Linked DNA regions of Homo sapiens: region 2 is linked to region 1. Evidence: fine-mapped expression QTL. Tissue or cell type: whole blood. Region 1 holds a variant in brackets; the other region holds the start of a gene. All regions are shown on one strand. Distances are between the middles of the regions.

Region 1 (8,113 bases):
AGAATCATTAGCCCAACAATTTTATTTTTTGTTTATATTAGCTCAGTGTTTTAGTTTCTAGGGATAATGTAAATGCCTAAACCCCTATGAAGTGCTAATGAAATTGTGGAAGGGCCATTTTTGTTCATTTTTCTAAACTGCCTACTCCTCTCCTTAGTTTACTACTATTCAGATTGGAAGATGTTAGTGATAATGTCAGAATTTTGTTTCTACAGCTTCTTCCCCCTGTAGCTACTTCACATGCGTTGACATAGAAATGTGACACATCTTTCTCATTAGAGAAAATGTTTTCATGCTTTTAGATTGAGATACTATCTCTTCTACAGTGTTATATGTGTCTCTGTCTTTAATTTATGGTTCACTTTGTTCCACTTTACGGGAGGGAGATGTTGTAGTCTGGTTTCCTGCTGACATTTTTTTTTTTACCTCTGGATGTTGCCACTGGGTTTGATATAAGGCATCATATCCCCTAGGGCATGGTGTCTCTACTGCTGATTCTCACCTTGCTGGAATTATGCGTAACCATCTCTACCATAGCCATGTGGTGCAATGCAAACTGCTGTAATTCAAGAGAGGTGAGATTTTTCAAATGATTAATCATTCACATGATCTCAAAGCCTCCCTGTAGGGTTTGAAGTTGTTTCTGATGCTTAGAAATAAACCTTTATGTGGTAATGATTTGTGGAGTTCCTGGAATTAGAGATTGTATGAATGTTAGAGATGGAATGAAGGGTAGAAAAGAATTTGGATGTGAACATGCAAGAGGAAATACTGTACTTGATATATAAGAGCATACTTTCTTATACAGCTGTAATTAAGTTTTATTATTTTCTTATAACTTGTAACTTTCTAATTGTATGACCTAGGAAAAATTAATAATTCTTTCTAAATTTTAGATATATTAACTGTAAAATGAAAATAATATTTTCATTCTCTTCTAATGTTTGTTGTGAGTACTGTGTATATAATCTTTATGGCATTTGGCACAGTAAACATCAATGAATGGATTTTATTGTTGATGATTATGATGATAACAGGAAGGGATGGGAGGAGAAGGAGATAATGATCCTGTTCTTGGACATTAATGTTGTTTTATTTTCTAGGAAATTTCCTCACCTCCCAATTCTGTGTAATCAAGAATACCTCCTTAATTCTGAGAGCATGAATATTTGACCTTAAATCTCCAGTGACTCAGAGCTTCACCCACAAACTCAGGAGAACATAAGCCTGCTCGTAAAGCTCAATCCTTCTATCATGGCACCAATCACAAGAACCTTGGACGTTTGACTGACTCTATCCTTTCTCTCCTAACTATAAATCCTATTTGTGTGTCGTGGGTATGGAAGGACAGATATATTTCTTTAGGCATTCTTGGATATCTGTAACTTCTATGATCATTACTCCAAAGTTGTTTCCAGAAATTGGTTCTATTTCTTCTTATCCACCTACTCCATTGCTTTATGAGGTTTAAGGAAGGAAGGCGGTATAATCCCTATTCAATATATTTTTTCTAAAATCCAACTTCTGACCGCCCAGTAGGAAGAAAAATGAGACATTTTTTCCATTACAGAGAAATGCTTCTTGACTTTAACATCAGCATTATAAAAAGTGTCAAATAAAAAATTACCATCATTATCATTAAAATAAATTTTCACTGTATTTGAGATGGGAGGGTTAAGGCTCAGGGATTTTATTTCAGTGAACTGCTGGAACTCACACATGCCCTGATATGTAAATGATGATTTATGTTGGCGAGTCTGAGAGCAAGCCCAAATGTGTTCTTCAAAGGACAATGGGAAACTGTAAAGTAGAGAACTAAAGAATAAGGCCTTTAGAATCTGACACATCTGGGTTCAAATTCTGAAACTGTCACTTATTACCTGTATGAACATGGGCAAATTATCTAATCTCTCTGATCTATTTTTCCTCATCTGTAAAATAGGTGTAATAATAACAACTACTTTGTCGGTTGCTCTGAGGGTTAAATGAAAATAAAAAGAAAATGTGAAACAGCACCACAGGTACTTGACAATGATGTTGCTGTTGTTGTTGGTCTTGCTGTTGCTGGTGAAAGCTAAGGTGGGATTGTGGTCAGATGTGCTGGAGAGATACAGTGGAAAACTTACTTACACTTCCATTGTGGCTCCTCGTATAACCTCCAACAACTCCAATAGCCATCTTTTCGAGGTGGCAATGTGGCGTGAAAACTTCCCTCAGTTCCTCGTTTATAAATCTGCTAAAGCACTTATATTTCTTATTCATAAATATCCAAGAAAAATAAAATTTATGAATAAGAAATATAAGCACTTATTGTGTCCATAAATTTATACCAATAATTTATTCTTAGTTACGTGTATATCGTATGTGCAAAGGTTCTTTTCTAACACTTGTATCCTACTTATATAATAATTATTTCTTTATTTTTTAATCCATTCTGCAGCGGGATAATTAAGGAACCAGAGAGACTGAGGGGTTGAGGAGGAATTATTTAATTATTTAGGTGCACCGACCCAGTCGGATTAACATCCAAAGGACTGAGCCCCAAACAAAGAGTCCGGTTACCTTTTAAGCATTTTGTGCAGCGGGGGACGATCTGTGCAGGGGGAAGCATATTACAGAAGTGAGAAACAAAGACAGTTATTCAATTAAGACATGTATTACATTATTTCTTATTTTTTCAAGGAAAAACATGTTTTACGACTTGAGTTTATCTGCCTAGTGACCTTGCACCTGCACAGCTAGAGAAATAGGGTCTTCACAATGCCTGGGAAAGGGAGAGATAAGGCTCACTAGCCGCAGAAAAACAGGCAGTTAATTTTAAAGGACTCCAGCTCTTTCTCTTCTTCAGGGGGAATTGGGTTTCTCTTACATACAACCGAGCTTTTGCTTACACATTCTTTAATTTCTTTTAATTCCTGTTCTAATTCAACAATCATTTAGGGAGTGCCTACAGTGTGTCACGTATTGTGCTAAGAGCTTGGCATATAATAGAGAATGATGCAAAATCTCTGCTCTTAAGTTGCTTGTAGTGGGAGATACAGACCCCTAGAAACACACAAGGGCTCTCATAGGAAGAGTATAGGAATCTTGAGAAGCACGTAGGACGAGCTTCTAACCCAGATTAGAAGACATGTCAGTGATAATTTTTTAGAACACTTTTCTTCTCAACTGAGTTCTTAAAGATAACTGAGCGTTAACATGATGGAAGGCAAATGGAAGAAAAGAGGATACATTAAAAGCCTTTAAGTTAGAAAAAATTTTGAATATTCAAAGAATAAACTAGAGACTTTAGTGGGTCTAACTTCAGTGTATAATGGGCAGATGGAAAAATAAAAGTTTGGAGAGAGGTGTACATCACAAGAGATTATAAAATGACAGCACTGTGAGTTTTTTTTTATTTTTTTTATTTTTTATTTTTTATTTATTTATTTTTTTATTGATCATTCTTGGGTGTTTCTCACAGAGGGGGATTTGGCAGGGTCATAGGACAATAGTGGAGGGAAGGTCAGCAGATAAACAAGTGAACAAAGGTCTCTGGTTTTCCTAGGCAGAGGACCCTGCGGCCTTCCGAGGTGTTTGTGTCCCTGGGTACTTGAGATTAGGGAGTGGTGATGACTCTTAACGAGCATGCTGCCTTCAAGCATCTGTTTAACAAAGCACATCTTGCACCGCCCTTAATCCATTGAACCCTGAGTGGACACAGCACATGTTTCAGAGAGCACAGGGTTGGGGGTAAGGTCATAGATCAACAGCATCCCAAGGCAGAAAAATTTTTCTTAGTACAGAACAAAATGAAGTCTCCCATGTCTACTTCTTTCTACACAGACACAGCAACAATCTGATTTCTCTATCTTTTCCCCACCTTTCCCCCTTTTCTATTCCACAAAACTGCCATCGTCATCATGGCCCGTTCTCAATGCGCTGTTGGGTACACCTCCCAGACAGGTTGGTGGCCGGGCAGAGGGGCTCCTCACTTCCCAGAAGGGGCGGCCGGGCAGAGGCGCCCCCCACCTCCCTCCCAGACGGGGCGGCTGGCCTGGTGGGGGCTGACCCCCCACCTCCCTCCTGGATGGGGCGGCTGGCCGGGCGGGGGCTGCCCCCACCTCCCTCCCGGACAGGGTGGCTGCCAGGCAGAGACGCTCCTCACTTCCCAGATGGGGCGGCTGCCAGGCGGAGGGGCTCCTCACTTCTCAGATGGGGCGGCCGGGCAGAGACGCTCCTCACCTCCCAGACGGGGTCGCAGCCGGGCAGAGGCGCTCCTCACGTCCCAGACGGGGCGGCGGGGCAGAGGCGCTCCCCACATCTCAGACGATGGGCGGCCGGGCAGAGACACTCCTCACTTCCTAGACAGGATGTCGGCTGGGAAGAGGC[G/A]CTCCTCACTTCCCAGACTGGGCCGCGGGGCAGAGGGGCTCCTTACATCCCAGACGGGGTGGCAGCCGGGCAGAGGCTGCAATCTTGGCACTTTGGGAGGCCAAGGCAGGCGGCTGGGAGGTGGAGGTTGTAGCGAGCTGAGATCACGCCACTGCACTCCAGCCTGGGCAACATTGAGCACTGAGTGAACTAGACTCCGTCTGCAATCCTGGCACCCCAGGAGGCCGAGGCTGGCGGATCACTCGCAGTTAGGAGCTGGAGACCAGCCCGGCCAACACAGCGAAACCGCGTCTCCACCAAAAAAAATATGAAAACCAGTCAGGCATGGCGGCGCGTGCCTGCAATCGCAGGCACTCGGCAGGCTGAGGCAGGAGAATCAGGCAGGGAGGTTGCAGTGAGCCGAGATGGCAGCAGTACAGTCCAGCTTTGGCTCGGCATCAGAGGGAGACCGTGGAAAGAGAGGGAGAGAGAGACCGTGGGGAGCGGCAGCGGGAGCAGGAGCGGGAGAGGGAGAGGGAGAGGGCAGCACTATGAGTTTTAAGAAGCAATTGAAAATGTATGCAGGTTCCAGGCACGGTGGCTCACACCTGTGATCCCAGCACTTTGGGAGGCCAAGATGGGTGGATCACTTGAGATCAGGAGTTTGAGACCAGCTTGGCCAACATGGTGAAATCCCGTCTCTACTAAAAATACACAAATTGGTCATGTGTGGTGGCATGTGCCTGTAATCCCAGCTACTCAGGAGGCTGAGGCAGGAGAATCGCTTGAACCTGGGAGGCAGAGGTTGCAGTGAACTGAGATTGCGCCACTGCACTCCAGCCTGGGCAACAGAGTGAGACTCCATCTAAAAAAAAAAAAAAGAAAGAAATTTACACAGGAATGTCCTGAGACTGGCTTATATTGGTTTGTGGAAGTCAATTTTAAATTTTCAGGGAGCACAGGTCAACATAGTTTGGGTAGCCTGAAGTTAGCTCTGATGGGAGGATTTACACCACAGAGATGGGGAAAAACCACAAGTTTTAGGATTCATGTGTAGATTTTGCCTGCAGCAAATACCATTGTGTTGTTCAAAAGGTGATTTTGTTTCCCTCATTTCTCCTTTATTTATCATTTAAATGTTTCAGTAAGGAAGATTTGTATCTTCTTTCATTTGTTTATTAAAGTATTTATATTGTTATGTACTCATGAATATTTATATTATTCTTTTGGTTATGAGCAATATTTGTTTTGTTTCTCAAAGTTTTCCAGCTTTGGCCATTGGGAGCTGAGTTGGCTCCTGTGTAGTTTTGACATGCTGCACCCCACTCTCCCCTTTTTAGCACTTCCATATTTTCTGGAACTACAGGATTCTTCATGTTATTTCACCTGCTACAGACCTAGAATTTTCATTTCTTCAGGGAGCCCTGGTTTCTTTACTTAGAGAACTATATTTAGAAAACCTGACCTGGAGGCAAGATGTGCTCATTGCTACTGTATGTCACTGCTTTTAGCCCCCCTCAGGAGACAAAGCTAAGAAATATATGCATGTACACTGACCCATGCATGCACATGTCTATATTTATTATCATATGTATGTATCTATCCATCTCTCTCTCTCCATCATGAATTCCTACTGATAAATTCCACTCAAATATGGCCACACAGGGTCCATTCTAGCAACCTCTCAACCTTGCTTATTTATAACCTGTTTTCTGAATATAATAAATCTGGCAACAATTTCCACAATTTATTTCCTTACCTGTTTAACATTAGTATACATGTAAATTCATTTCAGAATTGCTAACCAGTATTTTTGTGAGAAATAAATTTACCACCTAGAGTACACTGTTTGTGTACAGTTCTTTTTATCCTTAGCTTTAAGGTATGCAGTCAGAGTAGTTGTTTTTTATAGGTACTTAGGCCAGCTCCTTTTAACCTCTACCTCTTTCGGTGAGGTTGGCATGCATTTCTAATGTTGTTTAATTTATTTTTCACAGTTTAAATTTCATCCTGCATTCCATAGGTATCTTGGTGAATTTTTATTTTAAACTAGCCTACAGTAAAGTTCATTATTTGCAAAACATCATTTTATCAGTTTTAACGAAACATAGAGTTATGTATCCATAGTACCATACAAAGCAGTTTCATCATCCTAAGAGTTCCCTTCTGTAATCTCTTGAAAATCAACTTCTCTCCCCACCCCAAACTCTGGTAACAACCAAACTATTTTCCATATTAATAGATATATAGATATAGTCTTTTCATATGATATTCTGGAAAATACTATATCTATATATCTATTCATATGGAGGCAGTAGGGTGAGAAGGAGTGAAGGCAGAGATCCAGTCATAAAGCAATGGGTGTTATGGAATGGATTTCAGAGGATGGTGATATTACTAATAATGCCAATTTGAAAGGTCACTATGGCTGCATTATGAATAACAGCTTTGAGAGGGCTGGTACATAAGTGAATATGTAAAAAAGAAACCCAGTGGTACATAAGTGAATATGTAAAAAAGAAACCCAGTAAGAATGGTATTAACAGTGTAAAGTTGGACAATAATATGAGCTTGGATAACTGCTGTGCCAGTGAAAATCAAACAAGTATACAAAATCAAGATAGTTTTAGAATTGGGAAATTTGAGACAAAAATAATGGTGTTAGGAAAGCTAGATATTTACATGGAACAAAGTGATATTGGACCCTTATACCATATACACAAATTAACTCAAAATGAATTAGAGACTTCAGTGTAAGATCTGAGATGATGAAAATTCTAAAAGAAAACATAGGGAAATCTCCTTGACATTGGTCTTGGCAATAATTTTTTTGATAAGACACCAAAAGCACAGGTGACAAAAGCAAAAATAAATAACTGGAGTCACATCAAACTAAAAAGTTTCTGCATAGCAAAGGAAACTAACAAAATGAAAAGTCAATATATAGAATGGGAGAAAACATTTGCAAGCCATTTATCTGATAAGAGGTAAATATGCAATATATGTAAGGAACTCCTACAATTCAGAAGAAAAAAACCACATAACCTTATTTTTAAAAATGGGCAAATGACCTGAATAGACATTTTTCTAAAGAAGACATACATGTGGCCAACAGCTACATAAAACATGCTCAACATTACTAATTATTAGAGAAATACAAATCAAAACCATAATGAGCTATCACCTCACAGCTGTTAGAAGAGCTATTATCAAAAAGACCAAAGATAGCAAGTGTTGGCCAGGGTATAGAGAAAAGCGAACCCTTGTGCACTGTTGGTAGGAACATAAATTGGTACAGCCATAGGGAAAACTGTGTGGGGGTTTCTCAAAAAGTTAAAAATAGGTCCAGCAATCCCACTTCTGGTATATATCCAAAGGAATTGAAATCAGTGTGCTGAAGAGATATCTGTACTCCCACGTTCATTGCAGCAATATTTACAATGGCCAAGATATGGAAACATCCTAACTATCCATGAACAGATAAATGGATAAAGAAAATGTGGAATACATATATAATGGAATATATTTTTTAGTGATAAAAAGGAAGGAAATCCTTCCATTTGTGATAACACGAATGGAACTGGAAGTCATTATTCTAAGTGAAATAAGCTAGGCACAGAAAAACAAATACTGTATGAGCTCATTTATTTGTGAAACCCAAAAAATTTGAACTAATAAAAGCAGAGAGTAGAACGATGATTATCAGAGACTGGGGAGCAGGGGACGGGAGGGAAGTTTGGCTAAAGGGTACAAAACTTCAGTT
Region 2 (8,113 bases), 210 kb before region 1:
GGGATGAAGAGAAGGAAAGAGTGGAGGGAAACTTCATATAGTTTTGAATCAGTGGAGGAGAAGACAAGGTAGTCTAGGGTCTCTAAATATTTAATTCTTACCCATATTTTCAATTTCTGCTTGGAATTTATTTTCTAGCTTGTCGATCAGGTGGTAATCATATATTAAGTTTTCCTCAGCGTTACGACATACTCCCAAAGCCAGTATAATCAAGGCAAGCTCTCCCGAGCTTACATCTGACACTGAAAAGAAAAGTATTCAAGCTTAATAAGGTACAGGCTTGTGATTTTTTGGGCCTCCTGATTTCCTTGAGACTTATATTGCCTATCACTTTTTTCTTCTGTTGCGCTCTATACAGTCTTGTGTCGCTTAATGATAGGGATAAATTCTGAGAAACTGGTTGTTAAGCGATTTTGTCATTGTGCAAACATCACAGAGTGTACTTACACAACCTAGATGGTATAGTTGACTACACACCTAGGCTATAGGGTACAGCTTGTTGCTCTCAGGCTAAAAACCAGTATAGCATGTTACTGTCCTGAATACTATAGGCAATTGTAGCCCAATAGTATTTGTGTATCTAAACATATCCAAGCACAGAAAAGGTACAATAAAAATACACTATTAAAATCTTGTGGGACCACCGTCATATATATTCATCATTATGTGATGCATTCCTGTATGAATATTTGATTCCTCTCTTCTTTATCCTCAAAGCAGAGCCTTTTAGAGCAGTACTGTATAAATGCAAACTAAATCTTTGTCTTTTCCATAAAAATCACAGAATCGTTTTGGAATCATACAATCCTTATGAAAGTGAAAAAGAGGAAAAATAGATAAACAACAAGATCTTGGGTTTTTTTTTCTTTGTGGTACCAGCTTGCTAGGATAGTAATTCTTGATTTTTAATGTTCTGCCTTTTAGAGTATCCAAACTCTCAGGATTCTCATAATTCTTATAATAATATTATGAGGTAGGTAAGAGTGGCTTCTTTTCCCCTTATACTAATTAGAAAACTGAGGCTCAGTATTAACATGACTGGTTCAAGGCCCACCCATACCTAGTTCAAATCTGGGTTGTTCCATGGTTGCCTTTCCATCACCAGCTTTCTTAGTTATGATCTGTATTCCCATGTGGTTGTGAACTAAGCTAGCTTATATAACAGCATTAATGGATAAAAATCCATAGCTTTTGTTTGTGGCTTCTTGAAGAAAAGTGGTTTTTAAGACCAAAAGAAGCAAGACCTAGCTCTAGGGTGAATGGCATGGGATTGTATTTTGGGCATGTTTCTGTTACCTCAAGTTTGGTACCATTAGAAGGGATGTAGCAGGGATACTTTGGATGCATAATTTTTTAGGATTAGTTGCAGATAATCTTTAAATAGGTAGATTTTTTTCTAAATCTTCCAGAATATACAGCAACTTACATCTGCTTTTCACATTGTATTTGATTTGTTGGATCATCTTTTGCATCAGGGTTTGGATCTGGATTCCAACAAGTTTGAGGGACAACACAACATTGACAGCGCTGGTTCCCCTGTTATAGTTTGACTGGATCATTGTATTCAACAGAGGTTTTAGGCGGATGTAGTTTTCTTCACTTACCTCTGTGGCAGAGAAGGAAGGAAATAAGAAACACATACTCAGAAAATAGTAAGACTTGCAGCAGGGGTTATATAAAAATATTTAGTAACAGATATGGCACAGACCTAGACCAATCCAGTGGCTGCAGACTGTGTTGGTGGAATAATACAAAGGTGGGTCTTGAACCCACCCCCATGCCAGACATTACTCCTTTAACAACCAACATGAAAATGTTTTAATATTTTAACAACTGGTGCAGACTTATCATTGTGTACTGGCAGACTCCTGCCTGGGAAATCTAGCATCATTCCCTAATTTTGTATATGAAGCTTAGATAGATTGTCCTTAAAGAAACTTCCATAATTGGAGGCTGAGCTGAAACTAGACTACATGTCTTCTGACTCTCAGTAAGCAGGACTTTCTACTTCCTGGATTCAGTTCTTTCCTTCTCCATCTTCTAAATCAACTGGGTTAATGTTGAGAAAATGCAGGTAATAATTCTGTGTTATACTGGTGATTGACCCCAAAACTTCATTGTCTGATTACCCAGCTGGCTGGGCATCGAGATCATTATTTAGCATTATGCAGCCTGTAAAAAACTCTCCAGTTTTAGCCTACAATATGCCCCAATTCCAGAGATGGAGGGAAGTCACATTATACTGTGGAAGTAGGAAAATCCATAGCTCCCAAGGAAATAGAGGAGAATAAAAAGATTTACTATTTATTTAAACACAGGACACTTTGTCAATGTATTTTTCCATAATCTTGAGGAGTAGCCCCAAATCCTACATATCTCCAGATTATCTAATGGATTAGTGGGAGAGTGAGAAGAACATGAGGTTTGGATTCAGATTTTGGCCACATTTTGTGCTCCTTAACTTATGACTGTGGATAATAACTTATGTAACTTGTTTTACTCTTAGTTTTCTCATTTAAAAATTGTGGCTGTTAACACTTACCTTACAGATATTGGACAAGAAACCACCGAATAAACTGTAAAATGCTGCACATACTATTATTTCCAGCTCAACTGGAGTTTTTATCACTATACTTGAGAATCAAGGAAATGTAATTTCTCTTGCCCAGTTTTCTTTACTTTAAAAGAATGAGTCAAGAAGATCTGAATAGAGTGATTGTAGAAAGGTCATGGTTTGTTGCAGACACAATGGAACAATTGTGAGTCAGTTCTCTGAGATTTTGTGGAACCATCCAGCTCAGCAGATTTTCTGGCCCTGAAACAGACTTTTTAGTTCCTGATCAACAACTCAAATCAGCTTCCTTGAGTCTCAAAGATAAATTTAATTATTATCATTATTATTTAAAATGAATTGAAAGCTAAAACCTACATAGCCATTCCCTATTCTTAGGATCCAACAGGGGAAATGTCAAGCCAAGAAGAAAAATCAGAGTCAGAAGAGTCTATGCTTTAGCCTGTATGTATACAAGCCTGTCTTCTGTGGTGTTCTCTTCTTACTGGTTAGAGAGCACAGATAGTACCACCTAGTAATCTTTGGACTGGTTTGAAGCTCAATTTCAGAGTAAAGTCTCACAAAAGAGAATTCATGCACTTGAGAACTGCACCAGACTTCATGAGATAATTTGCTTCAATAGTCTCCCCTCATTATCCTTTATTTATGAATGAAGCTAAAGAAATTCAGAAATGTTGGGTCATTCAATAACTAAGGGATCAAACTAAACCTGAATTTAGTTTTCCCTTCTCTTACTTTAAAGTTCTTTTACAGAACCACACAATCTCTGGGGTCAACACCCATGCAAGAGATGATGGAACTTTATCCCATGTGTCCTGGGAAAGAGTTGAAGGAAGGTGGACATGCAACTTGGAACATCTAAACTCACTCATGACAAGACAGCAGTCATCACTATTTGAAAGAGATTATTATTTTTTTCTATGTAGTTACAAGGGGTTAACCCAAAAATCATGCATTGAATTTCAGGGAAAAAAGATTGCATATCAAGACCAAAAGATAACTTTCCATGATCTAGAAAAGTTTCTGGGAGCATAAATTTTCTGTCATTGAAAAGTCACATGAATAGGGAGTTACTTGGTAGGGATGCTGTGCTAGAGAGGATCTGAGCATAGAAAGAGCAGTTAGGCAAGTGAATACACAATCTATAATTCCTCTTACAACAACATGCATTGTGAGACTTTCCTCACCATCTCCTGCCACCCTTTTCATCATTCATGGAGTCCAACCACATACGAAACTGGAATGGGATCTTTTCTCAGGTAACTCTACATAGAGTCTCTTGTCAACAGTTTTCAGTAGACTATCACTCTAGAGTAATTTTAGCTCAAAGTTTACTCACCACAAATCTCGCATAGTTGGCTTGGAATAAAAGAAAACAGTAAGAGCCCCACTAGGGGCAGCTGGTGTGACTGTCTCATCTCTCCAACAGTGTACCAGAATGTTGATGAATTGGCTGGCTATTTATTAAGTGATGGGCAGAAGGTAATGAGAGCTCCTCCTTCAGGTTGCCTCAGCCTCTTTTCACTCAAGCAAATATTGAGCAATGTCAGGAGGTGTGGTCAAGTGTATTTGTCCATGTGATGTAATAAATAAGGAAGAAGACTTGAAGGATGTGGTTAGGGAGAATAAGGCAATAACTTTCCTTTGTCTCCTGTCCTAAACCTTCGGGTTTCATATCTATTATTTGCCTTCCGTGCAGTGAAGATATATTAGGCAAATGACTGTTTCCTATAATCTTTCCTTTTTTTTCCGTTTCACTTTATGTTTTATGTTTCCTGATAAAGTAGATTTGATCATGCAAACACATACAACATATAAAAATGGAAGTAAAAGAAGACATCCAAATGGGAAGCAGGCATATGAAAAAGTGCTTGAAAAGGTGCTTAACATCATTGATCATCAGATAAATGGAAATCAAAGCTACAATGAGATATCCTCTCATCTCAGCTAAAAATGGCTTTATTCAAAACACAGGCAATAACAAATGCTGGCACGGATGTAGAGAAAAGGGAAGCCTTGTACACTGTTGGTGGGAATGTAAATTAGTACAATCACTATGGAGAACAGTTTGGAGCTTCCTCAAAAAACTAAACATAGAGCTACCATATGATCCAGCAATCCCACTGCTGGCTATATACCCAAAAGAAAGAAGACCAGTATATTGAAGAGATATCTGCACTCCCATGTTTGTTGCAGCACTGTTTACAATAACCAAGATTTGGAAGCAAGCTAAGTGTCTATCAACAGATAAATGAACACAGCAAATGTACATATACACAATGGAGTACTATTCAGCCATATAAAAGAATGAAATCCTGTCAGTTGTGACAAAATGGATGGAACTGGAGATAATTATGTTAAGTGAAATAAGCCAGGCACAGAAAGACATACATTGCATGTTCTCACTTATTTGTGGGATCTAAAAATCAAAACAATTGAATTCATAGAGATAGAGAATGAAAAGATGGTTACTGGGGGCTGGGAAGGCTAGTGGTGGGAAGGAGATGCGGAGGGTTAATGGGTACAAAATATTGGAAAGAATGAATAAGACCTACTATTGGTAGCATAACAGGGTGACTATAGTCAATAATAATTTAATTGTACATTTTAAATAACTAATAGTATAACTGGATTGTTTGTAACGTAAAGGATAAATGCTTGACAGGATGAATACCCCCTTCTCTATGATGTGATTATTACGCATTGCATGCCTGTATCAAAACATTTCATGAGCCCCATAAATATATACACCTACTATGTACCTACAAAAATTGAAATAAAAAAATTTAAAAACGGAAGTAAAAGTTGTAAGTCTGAAATTGAAGCAGGCAGTATTGGAGAACCCAGCACATGAGGGGATCTTTGGCATAGTGGTTTCCAAACTATGATTTTTCTCCTAAGATAGATTCCATGAGAGTTTCCTAACCAAGGAGGAAAACCAGAGAGCTATACATCAAATGTGAATTTCTGCCCTGCCAGGGCAGTTGCTACATGTGAGAAGTGTTGCCTATCACAGTTCTTCTGAGAACTATTAGAGAATACTGTCAGCCTAGCTAAGGATGTCATGACTTAATGAGCCACTATTTGCATTGTACCTCTGTGATGGTTAATTTTCTGTGTCAACTTGACTGGCACCTGAGTGCCCAGATTAAACACTATTTCTCGATGTATCTGTGAGGGTGTTTCCAGATAGGATTAGCATTTTAATTGGTGGACTCTGGAAAGTAGAATGCCGTCTCCAATGTAGGTGTGCATCAATCAATCTATTGAGACCCTGAATAGAATAAAATGGTGAAGGAAGGGGGAATTCACCCTTTTTTTGCTTCCTGCCAGCCTGTTTGAGCTAGGACATCTTATCTTCTCCAGCCCTCAAACTGAGATTTACACCATCGGCTCCCCTGGTTCTTGGGCTTTCAGTTTGGCCTGAATCACTCCACTGACTTTTACTGCATGCAGACAGTAGACTGTGGGACTTCTTAGCCTCCATAAGGGCATGAATCAACTCCTTGGAATAAATCTCTTTCTCTCTCTCACATATTTATATAAAACTTATGTGGAAACCACCATTCTACTCTCTGTTTCCATGTATTTGATAATTTTTAGAATCTACATATAAATGAGATCATAGTATTTGTCTGTGACTTATTTCATTTAGCATGATATTCTTCAGGTTCATCCATGCTGTCTCAAAGGGCACTATTTCCTTCTTTTTTATGGCTGAATACTATTCTATTATATAAATATAAATATATATATACACACACACACATATATGTGTGTGTGTATATAAATCACAATTTTTATCCCTTCATCCATCAACAGATATGTAGGTTGTTTCTATGTCTTTGATATTGTGAATAATGCTGCAATGAACATGGGAGTACATATTTTATATAATATATATTTTTGTTTGTTTGTTTGTTTGTTTGTTTGTTTTTGAGACAGAGTTTCTCTCTTGTCGCCCAAGCTGGAGTGCAATGGTGCAATCTCAGCTCACTGGAAACTCCACCTCCCGGGTCCAAGTGATTTTCCTGCCTCAGCCTCCAGAGTAGCTGGGATTACAGGTATCTGCCACCACACCGGCTAACTTTTCTATTTTTTTTTAGTAGAGACAGGGTTTCAACATGTTGATCAGGCTGGTCTTAAACTCCTGACCTCAGGTGATCCACCCACCTCAGCCTCCCAAAGTGCTGCGATTACAGGCGTGAGCCACCGTGCCCATTCGGGAGTACATATATTTCTTTGAAACACTGCTTTTGCTTCCTTTGGATATGTACCCAGAATTAAGATTGTTGGATCATATTGCAGTTCCATTTATAATTTTTTGAAGAACCACCACACTGTCTTCCATAATGGTTGTGCAAATTTACATTCTGCAAACACAAAGGATTCTCTTTTCTCTACATCCTCATCCATACTTTGTTATCTTTTGTCTTTTTGATAATAGTCACCCTAACAGGTATAAGGTGATGTGATTATTCTGATTTGAATTTCTCTGATGATTAGTGATATTGTGCATGTTTTCTCATGCCTGTTTGCCATTTTTATGTCTTCTTTGGAAAATGTTGAGGTCCTTAGCCCATTTTAAAATCAGGTTATTTGTTTTGTTTTTGTTTTCATTTTGCTATTGAATTGCATGGTTCTTACATATTTTGGATATTAATCTATTTTCAGATATAGGTTCGCAAATATTTTCTCAAATATTCCACAGCAACTTGGATGGAGCTGGAGGCAATTATTCTAAGCAACACAGGAGTAGAAAACCAAAAAAAATATTTTCTCACTTATTATTAACATTATTTCATTCCTTTTAATGGCTCAGTAGTAGAATTCTTCTATACCCAATTTGTTGAGAGTTTTTTTTTATCATGAAAGGATGCTAAATTTTTTTGATTGATTTTTTTTTTTTTGCTTTTTTTTTAATGTGCTGTTGAATTTGGTTTGCTAGTATTTTGTTGAGGATTTTTGCATCTATGTTTATTATGGGTATTGGCCTGTGATTTTTTTTTTTTTTTTGGTAGTGTCCTTATCTGGCTTTGGTATTAGGGTAATACTCATCTTGTAAAATGAGTTTGGAAATATTCTTTCTACAATATTTTGGGACAGTTTGTGAGGAATTGCCATTAATTCTTCTTTAGGTATTTGGTTGAATTCACCAGTGAAACATCTGGTCCTAGGCTTTTCTTTGTAGGGAGGTTTTTGATTGCTGATTCAGTCCCCTTATTTATATTTTTGGTCTGTTCAGATTTTCTATGTCTTCATGATTCATTGTTGGCACATTGTGTGTTTCTAGGAATTTATGCATTTCTTCTAGGTTATCCCATTTGCTGGCATATAATTGTTCATAGTAGTCTCTTATGATTCTTTGTATTTCTGTGATAGCAGTTGTAATGTCTTCACTTCTTTCATTTATAATTTTACTTATTTGAGTTTTCTCTCTTTTTTCTTGGTTAGTCTAGCTAAAGGTTTGTCGATTTTTTTTTATCTTTTCCGAAAACCAACTTTTAGTTTTGTTGATCTTTTCCATTGTTTTTCTATTCT

The links. PIP is the estimated chance that this variant, and not a neighbour inherited with it, causes the effect.
Region 2: TCN1 starts here. The variant in region 1 is the best candidate, but not a certain one, in a credible set for the expression of TCN1 in whole blood (TOPMed, PIP 0.55).

What each region holds. Positions count from the first base shown.
Region 1 is chr11:60,069,101-60,077,213 of GRCh38, forward strand. MS4A3 (membrane spanning 4-domains A3) reads left to right here. Exons shown (of 7, transcript NM_006138.5): 6 at 474-575; 7 at 1,104-2,015. The coding sequence ends at 1,133. Among named protein-coding and RNA genes, the nearest start is that of MS4A2, 16 kb to the right of the region's middle. The variant G/A (reference allele first, on the strand shown) is at 4,372.
Region 2 is chr11:59,862,481-59,870,593 of GRCh38, forward strand. It overlaps TCN1 (transcobalamin 1), which reads right to left and starts at 4,007. Exons shown (of 9, transcript NM_001062.4): 1 at 3,912-4,007; 2 at 1,427-1,606; 3 at 102-242. The coding sequence starts at 3,990.